Homo sapiens: one gene and its partner. The protein of the gene in region 2 interacts with the protein of the main gene of each other region in a biochemical or structural test. Each region holds a gene or a part of one and is shown on either strand. Other genes may lie near its edges.

What was found.
Region 1: the proteins of ANKRD2 (region 2) and LDB3 interact in far-western blotting, tested with the Homo sapiens proteins (one study listed by BioGRID).

The regions. Positions count from the first base shown.
Region 1 is NC_000010.11:86,663,881-86,671,528, reverse strand, and holds the start of LDB3 (LIM domain-binding protein 3), read right to left. Parts: upstream 3,019-7,648; 5' UTR 2,959-3,018; exon of another isoform or gene 2,861-2,958; 5' UTR 2,838-2,860; coding exon 2,745-2,837; intron 1-2,744. Other genes in the region: OPN4 (melanopsin), read right to left, coding at 7,538-7,648. UniProt on the Homo sapiens protein: May function as an adapter in striated muscle to couple protein kinase C-mediated signaling via its LIM domains to the cytoskeleton.
Region 2 is NC_000010.11:97,568,795-97,575,786, reverse strand, and holds the start of ANKRD2 (ankyrin repeat domain-containing protein 2), read right to left. Parts: upstream 2,999-6,992; coding exon 2,912-2,998; intron 1-2,911. Other genes in the region: UBTD1 (ubiquitin domain-containing protein 1), read right to left, coding at 5,264-5,649. UniProt on the Homo sapiens protein: Functions as a negative regulator of myocyte differentiation. May interact with both sarcoplasmic structural proteins and nuclear proteins to regulate gene expression during muscle development and in response to muscle stress.

The DNA of each region.
Region 1 (7,648 bases), about 11 Mb from region 2:
ATAAATAAAGGCATTTCCCCGCCACCCTCCTTTCCCAGTCTCCCTCTTGAACTCCCTTCTCTGTGGGTCTGCAAGCAGAGACCCTATGAAGGGATGCCTTGAGGGGCTGCTGCTGCCCCAAAGTTGCTGCCATGAGCCCCCGGGAGCCACCACCCAGCCTGCAGGTGGCCTGTGTCCTTCCAGGAGGAGCTGCAGCACACACCTGCAGCTGAGAGGGGACAGACCCTCCCCAGTGCCTCTCTATTAGTCCCAGTTAGAGGGGTGAGCAAGCCAGCATGGGAGTTAGGGGTGACAGGATACAGGAGATCCACCCATGGACATCCCTGTCCTGTGAGCAGACTCGAGCCTCAGTTTGCCAGGCTCTGAAGCGAGGTAACGATCCCAGCCTCGCCTGCCTGCCCACCCCACAGGGTCACACACTCTTGCCTCTGGTGCCCTATGGCACAGGCTCAGGTCCTGGCTGGGGTGGGAGTGGGGTTCCTCCAGAGAGCTCTGGCCATGCCTCCCCCGTAGGGGGATGTCCCTGGTGCAGAAGGGCCCTGCGAGCCCCGGCAGTAAATCCTACAGCCCTGGTGGGATGGCAGGGCTGTGTCCACAAGGCCTGCCCTGCCAGCGGCACTGAACCAGGACACAAGCCCAGGCTATCAGCAGCCTACCACCAAAATTTCTCAAGAGGCTCCGAGCCCTGGGGAAGGCTCCAGTACCCAGTCCAGCCTGCTCCGCGGCTTAGGTGATTTGGGGTATGCCCCTAAAGGAAGCCGAGAGGCCATATCATGCCCATCCCCCGGTGCCCTGCCCGAGCTTCGGGTTCTATTTTTAGAAGTCCCCACAGTCATTGGATCCAGCACATCCCTGCATACCCCCTCCCCAGAGTAAGGACATTCCTCCTGCTATCTAGCTTAAGGCTTCTGGGCTGCCATTTAAGCCCCTGGCTGGCCGGGGCCAGGTGGCACATAGACCCTGGGTGAGGTCATTGGCTATCCTGAGTGCCACTGAGCCCAGTGGCCAATTTGCACCCATAGGGATAGGGCAGGGAGCACCAGCAGGAGGCCTCGAGATGGTGGAGCTGGGGGAGATGTGGGCTCAGTCCCAGGCAGGGGAGGCCACAGGGCCCATGAGAGAGCACACAGAGGCTCCACCTTATACAGGAAGGAGTCCTGCAAGCATGGGGGTGGGGAGCTGTGGGAAAGGGCAGTGGGAAATCCACTGGGGCTCACATGCTCACAGGTCACCACCTCATGCAAAGTGTGCAAGGCTGTGGGTGCCCAGGACCCTGTGGTCTCCAGGGCAGTAGATCTGGAGGGGTGGAATCTCCAGGTTAGAACAAGCCACATCTGCAACTGAAGGATGGAGGTCAGGGCCTGTTCCCTGCACCAGAGCCAGGCCAGCACCCCTCCTGTAAGCATGTGGCCTCTATGGCTATTATAAGGCTCTCACGGCATCCCTGGGTGGGGCTTCTACTTCTGGGGTCCCCTCAAGTACCCGTGGAACAAAAAAAAGATTACTCCTCCACTGGGGGCATTGGCTCCTGACCCGCTGCCCAGGTTCCCTGGCCCCTCTGCCAAGCCCCTTCAGGCCTTGCCCACTTCAGTGCTTCCCCTCCAACCCCTTCCTCCAGCCCCCAGGCCCAAGGCAAGTCCTTAAGGCCCCAGAGAAGAAACTGTCCCCTTGTTCCCCTGGTGGGCAGTAGCCCAGATACCCCTGCCTACCTACCACCCTCCAGTGACAGACTGGGGGCCTCCCCCTCTGGCCTTGTGCCCGGAACAGCACGGTCAGGGGCTCAGCCACCAGGCAGGGTTGTCCTTGCCCTGTATGCCTCACAGTTCGCCCTGAGCCTTGGGGCCTTCAGCCCTGGGTCTACCAGTGCCTTGCTGGGGAGTCTCTTTGTTTGACAGAAACTGACGGAGTGCCTACTACGGTCTGGGGGCTGTTCCCCCATCAGTCCCTGCTCCTGGAGTGCTTCCTCAGGAGCATGGCTAACTTTCTGCCTCTCTGGTGTTGCTGTCTCCAGCCAGGCGGTAGAGTTACTCAGACAACCCCTGATGTTCTGTGTCATCTGCATCAGGCCATGCTGCTCCCCATCACAGACACTGCAGGATAGGGGGCCATCTCACCAGGCCCCAGCACTTGTGGGGAACAAGACCTGAGACAGACAAAGCAGCCATGGTGAATGGGGAGAAGCGCCCAGCCCCATGAGCCAGGGTCTTGGTGTCTCAAGTTTGGGATGGAGCAGGTGCCCAGTACTCAGTCCAGCCCAGCCCCACACTCTGACAGCTGGGCAGCCAAGGTCAACCGTCTGTCTGTCCATCTATCCAACTGCCCATCACCTGCCCTCTCCATGCTGGGAATACTCCCTTCCCAAAGCAGCTGCCCATATCTAGGGAAATGCTCAAGGCTTGGGGGCACCCTGAGCCCACTCTAACAGTAAAGGGATCAGGAAGGTGCTGTACTCTCTGTCCAGCTACCTGCCTGCCTGCCTGCCTGCCTGCCTGAAAACTCAGCATTTTCTTCTCTGCTAAAAACACCTACCACCTGCTCATGATGTCTCACATGCATAACAGGCCGGCGCGCTCCAGTGAGCAAACAGCTGTGGCTGAGACCAGAGGACCAGGCCAGTCCCAGGGGATGGGGCATGCTCTGCTTTCTGAGAGGCTCAGAAAGGACAGACAGACAGACGGACACACATGCCCTCCTCCAAGCGTGCCTGCCCCATCGGGTGCCAGGCTGTGGCAGGGTGCACTCACCCGGGAGATAGTGAGGGGCATGTTGAAGTCCTTGCCCCCCTGCAGACGGAAGCCCCAGGGCCCGGGCCCAGTCAGGGTCACACTGTAAGACATGCTGGTGCTGTCAGCGGCCGCCTCTGCAGACAAAGGGTAGAGAGGGTTGAGTGAGAGGGCACTCAGGCACTCCGCCTGCCCGGTCCACACCTCTGCCCCTGCCCCTGACCCCCAGCCTTGCCTGTTCTGTCCCTTGCTGCCCAGCCGGGCTGCGTGGAGCTCTTGAGAGGCTCCTAAGAATAGCTGGGAGCGAATGCCATCGACACTGATATCTGCCTTCGGCTGCGCCCATAAATGGACTGTAACCCTACACTGTGCCTGCCAGCCTGCCGCCTCCCAGCCGGTCCACCATGACTCACACGGCTAATATAGCCCCTGGGGAGGGGTGTCCGGCACCCAGCACCCCCCAGGGGGGAGGAAGGGGAACTGGCCTGGTTGGTGAGAATGCTCTGGTCTCCTTGCTCCTGTGTCCTCTGGAGAGCGTAGACACTCGCTCTTCCTGCCCAGTGGTACCCATCCTCTTGCTCAGAAGACCAGGGGCTGAGCTCCCTTGGGTAGGGGCTTTGCTGCCGTGTGGTCCCTGGCCAGGATTCTGGGGTTGTGCTTTATCCAGTATGGGGCCCTGGAGGTGCCTTGGCTTGAGCTGAGCCTCCAGCTGGTCTGTGACTGGCCCAGGGTTGTCCAGCCATAAAAACGATCATCATAACAGCAGCTCTGGGCATAGCCAACCTCAGTATGGGCCCTTCACTCCCTGGGATCCTGAGAAGCTGCCACCTGGGCCCGCAGGAGACAAAGCTCAGGGAGGTTAAATGACTTCTCCAAGGTCACACAAGGAGTGGACCCAGGTCACACTGGAGCCTGGGCTGATTCCTACAGAATGCATGCCAGATAATGGGCTCCCAGTAGCCACAGAAGCCTCCCAAAGCCCTGGTCCTGGGCAGCTGGCCCTCTGCCTGCACCCCTTGGCATAGGGTCTGAAAGCAGGTCTGAGGCAGGCCCATCCCCTCCAGACCCTCTGGGGGCCCAGCCAGTTATTCCTGGCTCTCCTGTCTTTGTGCTCTGGAAAACTTGACGGCAGCATGGAAAGCTCCAGCTGCCAGTGCCACACGCCAGGCCCCGTGCCCTTTGCGCAGGAATGGCAGGGGGCAGGGAGAAGGGAGGAGACGCCATTTGCTCAGCTGCTAGACACAGGGCCAGGAGGGGCAGGGAGGGGGAAGCACGTGTGGCATGTTCAGCCTGTACCCCAGAGACAGTGTGTTCTGGATGGGGGCCTCAGCACCTTGGGACTTCTGCCAGTGCGGTCTTTGGGCCAACCCCTTCCCCAAGAAAGACCTCAGGCCCCTATGTGGTCTGGAGATAGATCAAGGCCCACCCTGGCTCCTTGGTTGGAGAAACTGAGGCTCAGGGGAGGCAACTGGGTTGGCTGCTTGCTGGCCCTCTTGGAGGGGTCTGGCTTGGACCCTGAGGAGTCAGTAGAGGCCTGGGTGTGAGTCATTTCTCAGCTTCTAGCCTCACTCCTGGGGCCTGGCACATGCAAGGTACAAGGTAGGATCACCCATATTACGGGGTTGTTTTGTCACTTGCCCAAAGTCACAAAACTATCAAGTGGAAGAAGTCAGGAAAAGACCTGTGTCCTTTTCCCTGCTTAATCACTTCCTTCACCCTATATCATGCAGCCCAGCCCAGGAGGCCAGCAGTCCATGGCCAGCATCCCTTCCCCATACCATTCCCTATCCCTCTCTGCAAAGCCCCATGTCATTCATCCCTAACTCCAGCCTTATGCCCTTTCCTAGGGGTGTTTGTCCATCCTGCCAGGCTGGGGAGGACTCAGCAGCAGGGCATAACCAGTGTGGGAGAAGGAAGGCACCCACCCTCAGGGCCAGGGAGCTGGGGGAGGCTGTACCTGGAGCTGCACGCTGTCTCTCTGGCCTCTGGCTCCTGCCTGATGAAGCTCGCCTCTGGGGAAAGGGAGGGGTGGCAGGAGAGTGCTCTTAAAGGCGAAGGCCGGCCTCCCTCCATCCGCCTCCCTCGGGAGATGTGAAGCCAGTCAGAGAGCAGCTGGTACCCATGGTCTGGGCGGAGTTCAATGGCTCACTGGGGAGTGAGTGGGGATGGAGGCCAGCCTGGCCTTTGTCCCTTCTCTGCTGTACTCCTTGCAGTTTGAGGTGGGCCTCAGAGTGAGAGTCCCAAGAGTGGGGACAGAGGAAGGAGAGGAAGTGAAGTTGCTGGAGGCATCAGAGGCCAGGCCCTGGTTCTCTCTCCCATAGCAGCACCAACACGTAGAGACCATATTTGTCTGAAGACACCTTCTCCGCTTTTTATTTTCCTATACCCTGTCAGATCCACACAGCCCTGGGAGGAGCTTAGACCACTACATGAAATGAATCACAGACGCAGAGTGTGCACGCATGTGCTTGGTGTGCATTCAGATAGGTAACTACGCGAGAGCGTGCCTGCAAATGCCCGCGTGCACAAGAATGTGGGCCACAGTGGAACGGTACACTGGGGGAAGAAGCCACAGGTGAGTAACTGTTCCAGCGTGCAAAGGGAGGTCTGTGCTCGGCTTCAGCTGTTGGCAGTGGGAGATGCGGGGCTGGCCTTCCTATGCCAGTGACAGGCCCAGCCTGGGGGCAGAGGCTCATAAATAGCTGGTGTGTTCTCTGGAGCCATCACCATTGTCATCGCCTGGACAATTGCAGCACACAGCATTTGAGGAGAGGCAGACAACTCGGGAAGTGGGAGGGCCTGGGCACATACCCCTCAGGCTGAGCCTCGGGTGCGGCTGCTGAGCTGGAAAGTGGATGCGGAGGACGTTATGGGGCAGGAGTTTTGAGGTGTGGAGAGGGGCCATGGGGCTGGGGCTGTGAATCCCGTGCAGCACGGGTGACAGGGCCACTTCCAAAGCCTGCAGGCTCACAGCATAATCCTGGGTCTGTGTATATGAGGGAGACGTGGGGGGGCTGGATGTGTCTCAGAAGAAAGGGAGAGCCAGTGGGCGTCCTACATCCTGGGGTCCTGGCTGGGGATCAGCCCCTTGGTCTGCAAACAAACAGCACACATCTGTTTAGCTGAGGAGCAGTTCACTGGGGGCAGTCTCCCGATGACCCTCCACACACTGGGTCACCGAGCAGTGGGGGAGGTTGCATGGAAGGGCCAGGTTGTGTCCTGGGTCAGGGATGGGCCTTCCCAGAGTCCACATCCCAGAGTAAGAGCTGGTAACGCCTAACGCTGCCTACAGAGCATCTCCTGGGATGCTCCCCGGGCTCTTGACTCCCGGGGTCACAACTGAACCCATCCTCACCCCCACCATCCAATCCGCTCCTCTCTTCCACATGTGGAGACTCTGGCATCACCCCCGCTCCTGCTGTCCTTAAATGGGTCATCCCTTTCCTGCCCTGCAGCACTTCCTTCTTTGGTCTTCACCCTGCAAAGCTAACCAACCCCCTCCCAGGGCTTCCTGTCCCCAGGTCAGGTCTGGAGACACCTAAGCCAGTCCCTGATGGGGCCTTCCCACTGCTCCTACCACCTCCGCCTCCTCTTCCCTTCTCCTATGTCCCCCACTGCCAATCCCCAGGGTCCCTCTGGCTGCTCCCAGGGTCACAGAGAGACATCCTGTTCCAGGACATATTGAGCTCCCTCCCCTGTGCCCCTGTGTTTGCACAGTCACACAGGCTGTATCCTCATCCTGGACAGCTCAGTGCTCCCCCCACTCCCCACCCCTGCTGCCTGCAGATCCCTGCTTCACCTCTATCTTCCTGGGGAACCTCAGGGACTTGCCTCTGCTTTCAGTACCCTGCGTGCTCACACCTCAATGGCAGCGCTTATCACATGTGTTTGGTGATTGTTGATGGCTGCCCAGCAACCCCCCTGAGCCTATCCCTCCAAGACAGGCACTGTGTCTTTCATCAGTGCCTGGCCAGCCTGGGGGTCACTGCCAGGCCTTTGTCCTGGCGTTTATGGCATGCACAGTGCCTGGGCTCCAGGACAGGGTGCGGGGCCCCCGGGGGGAATGCTGAGGGAGGCTGAGGCTCCCCGACTGCAGGTACAGCCCAGGGCTTTCGTTCTTGGATGCACAGGGGCACAGCACTCAGGAAGAAAGGCAGGCAGGAATGTGCCTTTGGCCTTGGACTAGCTAGGGAAGCTGGAGAGAGCCCAGGAGCTGAGCTGAGGGTGTTGTGTGGGTGTGACAGGAGGGGCAGATGGGGAGCTGTCAGCTGGGGCGAAGGGCTGCTTGGGAGCCTGTGCACACGACATTTCCAGTGTTCCAGAATATGGCCTTCTCTAATCGCCATCAACATTCCGTTCCATAGGCACTTGGGCCGACAGCTGGCCTTCTTTTAATAGCCACAAGTATTCCGGGTGACATCCTGATCTTAGGGCATTTATGGTGAGCACATCCACAGCTTACAGCCCCTTCCTCCCCAGGTATGTCCAACCTCGCAGTCACACAGAGAGGTACATACCACCCACACTCAGTCACATGCACAGCTTAAAGCAGACACATTAGGGCATGCTTAGTCACGTGTCACTGGGTGTTACAGTGACAGAGCATGTGCCAGGTGCTACAGTGATGGAGCATGTGCTGGGCACATGGCCACACACATGCTCGAGCTATGCTCTGACGGCTGCAGACCTCCTACCCTCATCAACACACACATGTACTCTTATCATGCCACAGCACAGCCAACAGCACCATGCAGAGTCAGAGTTGCATGATCACACACACACACACACATGTGCAGACCATATGCAGGCCCTGCTCAGAGCATCTCAGAGTCACAGAGAACCCCAGGCAGACAAGGAAAAGCTGGGAGGTGCTGGGAGCAGGTGATTCCTGGAGGATATCGCCCCTGCCCATGAGAACAAGTCTC
Region 2 (6,992 bases):
GGCGCATGCCGCCACGCCTGGCTAATTATTTTTGTATTTTAGTAGAGACAGGGTTCCACCATGTTGCCCAGGCTGGTCCAAACTCCTGAGCTCAGGCAATCCGCCCACCTTGGCCTCCCAAAGTGTTGGGATTACAGGCGTGAGCTACTGCACCCGGCTATAAATTTTGTTGTTGTTGTCACATAGATGAGAGGTTTCCATGTTGTCCAGGCTGGCCTCAAATGCCTAGCCTTGCCTCCTTATGCGCCAGGACAACAGGCCTGAGCCACTGTGGCTCCCGAGCTTGTGTCTTAATCATCTTGGTGTCCCCAGCATCTGTGACAGGCTCTAGCACATAGTAGGTGCTTAGTGACTGGTGAATGAATGAATGATCGAATGGATGATGGCAAGCAGACTCAGCATCTCTGCTAACCCTTAAGTTCTCAGTGATGACCTAACCCAGTAAACTCGCCACAGTGGAACTCCAGCCCCTGCACTGGCCTCTGGGGCCCTCTTTCCCCTCCCACCCTGGGGATGGGGCACAGGCTAGACAGAGGTTCTCCTCCAAGAACCCTGCCAGGCTGGGGCCTGGTAGAGACAACTGGGGACTCTAATGCTCACCCACATCTTCCTCAGACCCTACAGCCCTTCATTTCAGGTTTGTCTTTGTGGGCTGGCACACAGTAGGTGCTCAGTAGCTGTTTGCTGCATTGAATGTGAGTTCATGAAACACACAAAGCTCCCACTTTACGTCATAGATTGCTATGCAGATTAAATGGGAGAATGCCTGTAAAATGCTTAGCACAGGGCCTGGCACTGGTGTCCTGACAGCTCTGTAGCTATATTTATTGGATGAATGAACGGAAGACACTGCTCTGCGTCCCCTTGCTGAAGGTCTGTGTGTCTATTGGCAGCACTCCAGAACTGGCATAGCAGCATGACTCACCTGCCTGGCACCAGCCAACCATAGGCACATGCCCTTGGGGGAGGGAGAAGTGGGATTCCTAGAGATCCAGGGATGCTTGCCCCAGCCAGGGCTCATTCCAAGCTCTTTCCTGACCTCATCCCTTCTTCCCTTGGGGTCTTGACCCTTCCTTCCTCCTCACCCCTCATTCAGTCACACTCCTTTTTTTGAATGGCATCTACCTCCAACCTGATTTATCTCCTCCCCTCCATTCCTGCTAGGGCCAGCCTTTTCCAACAAGTCCTTCTCAGGGCCATCAGAGCTGCTTTCCTAAAATAGGTCAGATGACACCAATCTCCCTCACTCAATAACATTTAGTGGCTCCTCACTGCCCACAGAATAAATATCTTTTACATGGCCCTCTCTGGCTTGTGTCTTTCCAGCCTTAGCCCCTACTACCAGACTTTATCAAGACAGCCACGCTTTCACTCATGGAAACTTCAGCTCCTGCATTTCCTGAGGCTGGAATACCCTCCACCATCCTGGACTCCACTGAGTCCCCTTGAAGGCCCAGCTCAGGTATCCTCCTGTCCACAGAGGAGTCCCCTTTTTTTTTTTTTTGAGACGGAGTCTCCCTCTGTCACCCAGGCTGAAGTGCAGTGGTGCGATCTCGGCTTACTGCAACCTCCGCCTCCCAGGTTCAAGCAATTCTCCTGCCTCAGCCTCCTGAGTAGCTGGGATTACAGGTGCCTGACACCATTCCTGGCTAATTGTATTTTTAGTAGAGACAGGATTTCACCATGTTGGCCAGGTGAGTCTCGAACTCTTGACTTCAAGTGATCTGCCCACCTCGGATCTCAGATCTCAAAATGCTGGGATTACAGGCTTGAGCCACTGCACCTGGCCCTGTCCACAGAGGAGTCCTTGAAGGCCCTCAGAACAATTCATGAGCCCCTTGTGTTCCTCCACTTCTGATTCACACCTCTATTTAGTCATTTCTTCCCTTTGCCTTGTTTCTTAGTTGACTATGAAACCAACAAATGGGCTAAAATGAATCCTGGGTTGGTAAAAAGAAGGCAGGGTCTGACCCTTATTGGTCCACCCATTTCTACAGCTCTGGGCTCTTGGCAGAGCCAACACTAGATGAAGTATTAGTTTAAATAAAGTGAAGAGTAGGGGCCGGGCATGGTGGCTCATACCTGTAATCCCAGTACTTTGGGAGGCCAAGGTGGGTGGATCATCTGAGGCCAGGAGTTTGAGACCAGCCTGACCAACAGAGTGAAACCCCATCTCTACTAAAAATACAAAAATTAGCCAGGCATGGTGGTGCATGCCTGTAATCCCAGCTACTCGGGAGGCTGAGGCAGGAGAATCGCTTGAACCCAGGAGGCGGAGGTTGCAGTGAGTCAAGATCATGCATTGCACTCCAGCCTGGGCAACAGAGGGAGACCCCGTCTCAAAAAAAAAAATGCAGAATAGGACAAGCCAGCACCCCCTGCCACCGCTCCACTTCCTTATCCCAGAGAAAATGCAATTGCCCAGAACACCACACGCCAAAGGACTCCCCAAGGGTGGCCAGCAGGCTGGCAAAATCCATGCTTCATTTCCCAGCATCCCTTCCTCACTCTCTTCTTCACTGGCCAAATACTGGAGTTTCCCCTGCCCCAGCCTCCCACTCAGTCACTGGGGCATCACAGGGCCACACATTCCTGAAAGTCCCAGGCAGCACCCAGCTGTCTGCTTTGTACAGCCCACTGTCTCTCAAGGCCCAGGAGGGTGAGCAGTCTTAGGAAGCCCAGCCCAGCTCCCCATCTCACTGACTTAATTTTGAAGGCTGAAGCCTCAGTCTTCTGCTGCCAGCAATACCCCCTGCCAGTAATACCCTGGGACAGGAATGAGGCCCAACTGGGCCCCTGGGGACATCTGCCCCCCTCCCCACCACAGGTGTAGCAGACAGGATCTCCCTCCCCTTGACAGCAGAACTGGATCTCCTCAGACCCCCTTGGGCACCTCCACCCCTGCTCGCACCTCATTCTCCTCCTCCTGTGCCAGCCGCTGCTCGATGAGCGCTGTGGCCCTCTGCACCGCCTCGGAGTCCTCCATGGTGCCGTCCATAACCGCCTCTGCAGGCCACAGGGCCTCGGGGGCTTTATAGGCCAGAGCACCCACCCCTGCCCAGCTGGGCGCCTTTGCCATGAGCTCACTGGCCCAATTCTCCACCTGCCTCCCCCACCTGTCACCTTCACCTCGGGCAGCCCCAGGGAGCAGGGGGAGCCAGGGCCAGGGAGCAGAGCCAGTTGCCCCCCCAACTCCTGGCCTATTAGAGCCGGAGGGCACTGTGTCCCAAGAGCAGGGGTGCAGGAAGGAGCCCGTCCAGCCTCTGTCCTGAGCACTTGGGACTGGTTGGGCCTTAGCCAAGGCAACTGAGTTGCAAAAGGGAACTGCTGGCTGCATGCTCCAGCCCAGATGACAGTGCCACCTGCTGGATGCCTGGAAACCCTGCTCAGCCAGCTCCAGGAAGAGGGCCTGAAAACCAAACGGGGGACCCAGGACAGTTCTGTACTCCCAGGCTGTCCTGCAGACAGGCCCTGCTGGCTGTGAGGAGGGTCACACTCTACTTGTCCAGGCCAGGGCCGTGGTAGCAGGAAGGGCAGCTGTCTCCCTCTCTGATCACAGCTCACGCTGGCCTTCGGCTCTCCGGGGTCCCACATGCTTCCCCGTTAAGCATCACTGCATTTGGCTGGGTGACTTTTAGTCATGAACAAACCTTATCCAATCTGTCTCCTCTCTTGGTAAGTGCTCAGGGGACCTCTGCAGGGCTTACAGAGTCTTGCTTCAAGAAAGGGGTCTCCGGAAAGCACTAAGCCCAGCTAGCGAGGAACAGCAGCTACTCTGGATCCTTCTACCCTCCCAGGGTTTCCCTGTCAGGCCCAGACAGTGCCAGACTTCCCTGGCCAGGAGGCTGCCCATGCTCACTAAGAAGGAAAAATACTCCCAAGTGGAGCAAAAGCAGATCTGTACTTGCTCAGTTCCACACCTGGAACTCGCATGCTGGAGCTCTGAGTCACTGTGACCCAGGTTAATCTGCTAGGGAACTGCAGACACCCAGCCCTGTGCTTCTGTAAGGCTCACCTGGCTGGTGGCTGCCCTTAGCTAAACAGCCTTATATAAGATTCCCTTCTCTTCAGATATGCATGCATTCCCCTAGGAAGCATGAGGAACCGGTTCCTTTTCCTTTCTGGTTCCCTTGCTGGGAAGCTGACACAAACCTCTGACACACGATCTAAATCTGTCAGAGATTTTGCTTTAACATCACGATGGCTACAGCGTCTCCAGGGCCGGAAGTTAGCCCCTCTTGCTGCAGGAGCAGACCACCTTCCTGAGGTGCTGTCTTCGCCTTGCAAGCACTTTCACATCTGTCTTCCTGCTTAATCCTCCCAGCAACTGATGGAGGAGGCAGGGCAGGCAGCATGGCTCTGCTTTAAAGAAAAGCAAAGAGTGGCTTTTCCTGAGGACTCATGAGGACACCAGGGGAGCTGGGATCAGGGCCCAGAAGACTGGCAGTTCCAGGCTCACTCTGCTGGAGATTGCATGCCCAGAGCAGCTGGGGAGGCCAGGCATCCACCTGTTCCCATACCAGAACAGCTCCAGGGGCCCCACAGAGCTGCAGGAGAATTCAGTCAAATGCCAGGCAAGCGAGAAGGAGCAAAAGGCTTTATTGATAAATATGCAGATATGTCTGTCCACAGGGACCTGCTGTGGAGGCCATGACCAGGCTGCAGACCTCCCACTGCCTGGGTTACAGCCAGGACATGGCCCTGTGCAGACCCTGCCACGACAGCCCAGCTGTCCACCACCCGCCTCATCTCTGCCAATTGTGCTGGGGGCAGGGAGAGGCAGAGGCCCGCCTCAGGCTTCCCAAGCCCTGGGGCTCACGGGTGGTTCCCTCCCTTCCAAGGGAGTGGCACTGTGCCCAGGGGAGAGCCAGGGGATGGGGGCAGAGGAGGGAGACAGCAGCTGCTTCAGACCCTGAGCAGAAAACCAGAGTGAGCACAGCTGGCAGCACCAGATGACAGATCTGGGCTCCAGGGGCCTCCTGGTTGGCCCTTGTGGCTCGAACCTGCTTCGGGAGACAGGCAGGGTGAGGGCCCTGTTCGCCTTTTCTCTGACAAGGTTGCAAGGCCCGTGTGTGGCTGCCTGCTCCCTGGGTACCGGGAACTGGTGGCGCGTAGTGCCCTGAAAGGCAGGGTCCCTTCACGGCTCACCCACCAGCCACACCGAGGGGAGGGCCCCTGAAGAAAATGACAGCACTGGAAGGCAGCAGCAGGGTGGGGGCCTAGTGCTCCAGGCGGGGCCTCTTCCCAGGGGTCCGTGGGCCCATCAGTCCTGGGGTGGTGGGGGCTGGTTGATGATGACCTGGATGACAAAATCTTTCTGGATCTTGGTCTCCTGGAGCCGTGTGCGGTCTGTGAGCAGCTTCCCGGAGAAGAACCACCGCTGCCACGATGGCTCGATGCCCTCCTGGGCGTGCAGCTGCCTCTTGAGCTGCCCCACTGTGTCGGGCAGGCTGGCGCTGAGCCTCACGTCCTTGCCCGTGGACAGGCGCACCTTCAGCGGGAACTCACGGCGCACGCTGGGTGGAGGCTCGGGGGGCTCCAGGCTCTCCTCCTCCGTGTGCTCCAGCAGCAGGTTCACCGGCGGTGACAGGCAGTAGATGGGCAGCTGGTAGCGATTGCCCAGCTCATCGTAGCATTCACAGAGGGTGCCTGTAGGAGAGGCAGGGCTGTCAGAGTCAGCTTGGGGATCCACTATCATGGATTAAATGTTTGGGTCCCCCCAAATTCATATGGTGAAACTCTAACCCCCAATGTGACTGTATTTGGACATGGGGCCTATACAGAAATAAATAAAGTTAAATGAGGTCATAGCGTGGGGCCCTGACCTTCTGACCCCTTGATGGGAAAAATGGTCCTTTTTTTTTTTTTCTTTTGAGACAAGATCTCCCTATGTTGCCTAGGCTAGTCTCGAACTCCTGGGCTCATGCAATCCTCCCACCTCAGCCTCCCGAGCAGCTGAGACTACAGGTGTGCTCCACTGCCCTGGCTTACAGTTCTTGTAGAGACACTAGAGCACTATCTCACTCTCCACTCGCTCCCCATGTGAGGACACAGCAAGAAGACGGACACCTGCAAGCCAGCAACAGAGTCCTCACCAAAACCTGAACCAGCCAGCACCATGATGCCGGATTTCCCAGCCTCCAGAACTGTGGAAAATAAATGTCTCTTGATTAAGTCACCCAGCATGTGGTATTTTGTTACAGGAGCCTGAGCAGACTAATACACCTGCCATGGCCACCCCACAGTCAGATCTCCCTAGGACAGCCTGATGACCAGGTGTACAGGGCTGGAGTCAGGAAGACCTGAGCTGGCATCCCAGCTCCACCAGGTACTGGCTTGTTCATCCTGGCATATTATTTTTCACTTCTTCACATGTGCCAGGTGCTGGGGTTACAGGGATGAATGAAATAGCACAGCTCTGCTCTCCATGGGCCTTAGTGTCCTTACTGGCAAAACGTAATGCATGGAGAAATATGTTTATTGTCTCTTGAGCACCTACTAAGTGCTGGGACTGGACTAAATGATGTTATGTGTATCTTACTGAATCCTAATAATCATCTCCCCTTTACAGTCGTAAGGCAGTCAGGCTCTAAATTCGAGAAGCTCCTTGCTAAAGCCAAGACAGTTAGGAAAGGGAAACATTCAGACTGAAACCCAGGTCTGTGGCCAGGCGCAGTGGCTCACGCCTGTAATCCCAGCACTTCGGGAGGCCAAGGCGGGCGGATCACCTGCAGTTGGAAGTTTGAGACCAGCCTGACCAACATGGAGAAACCCTGTCTCTACTAAAAATACAAAATTAGCTGGGCGTGATGGCGCATGCCTGTAATCCCAGCTACTCAGGAGGCTGAGACAGGAGAATCACTTGAACCCAGGCGGCGCAGGTTGCGGTGAGCCGAGATCGCTCCACTGCATTCCAGCCTGGGCAACAAGAGGGAAACTCCGTCTCAAAAAAAAAGAAACTCAAGTCTGTGATTCTAGGGCTCCACTGTCAC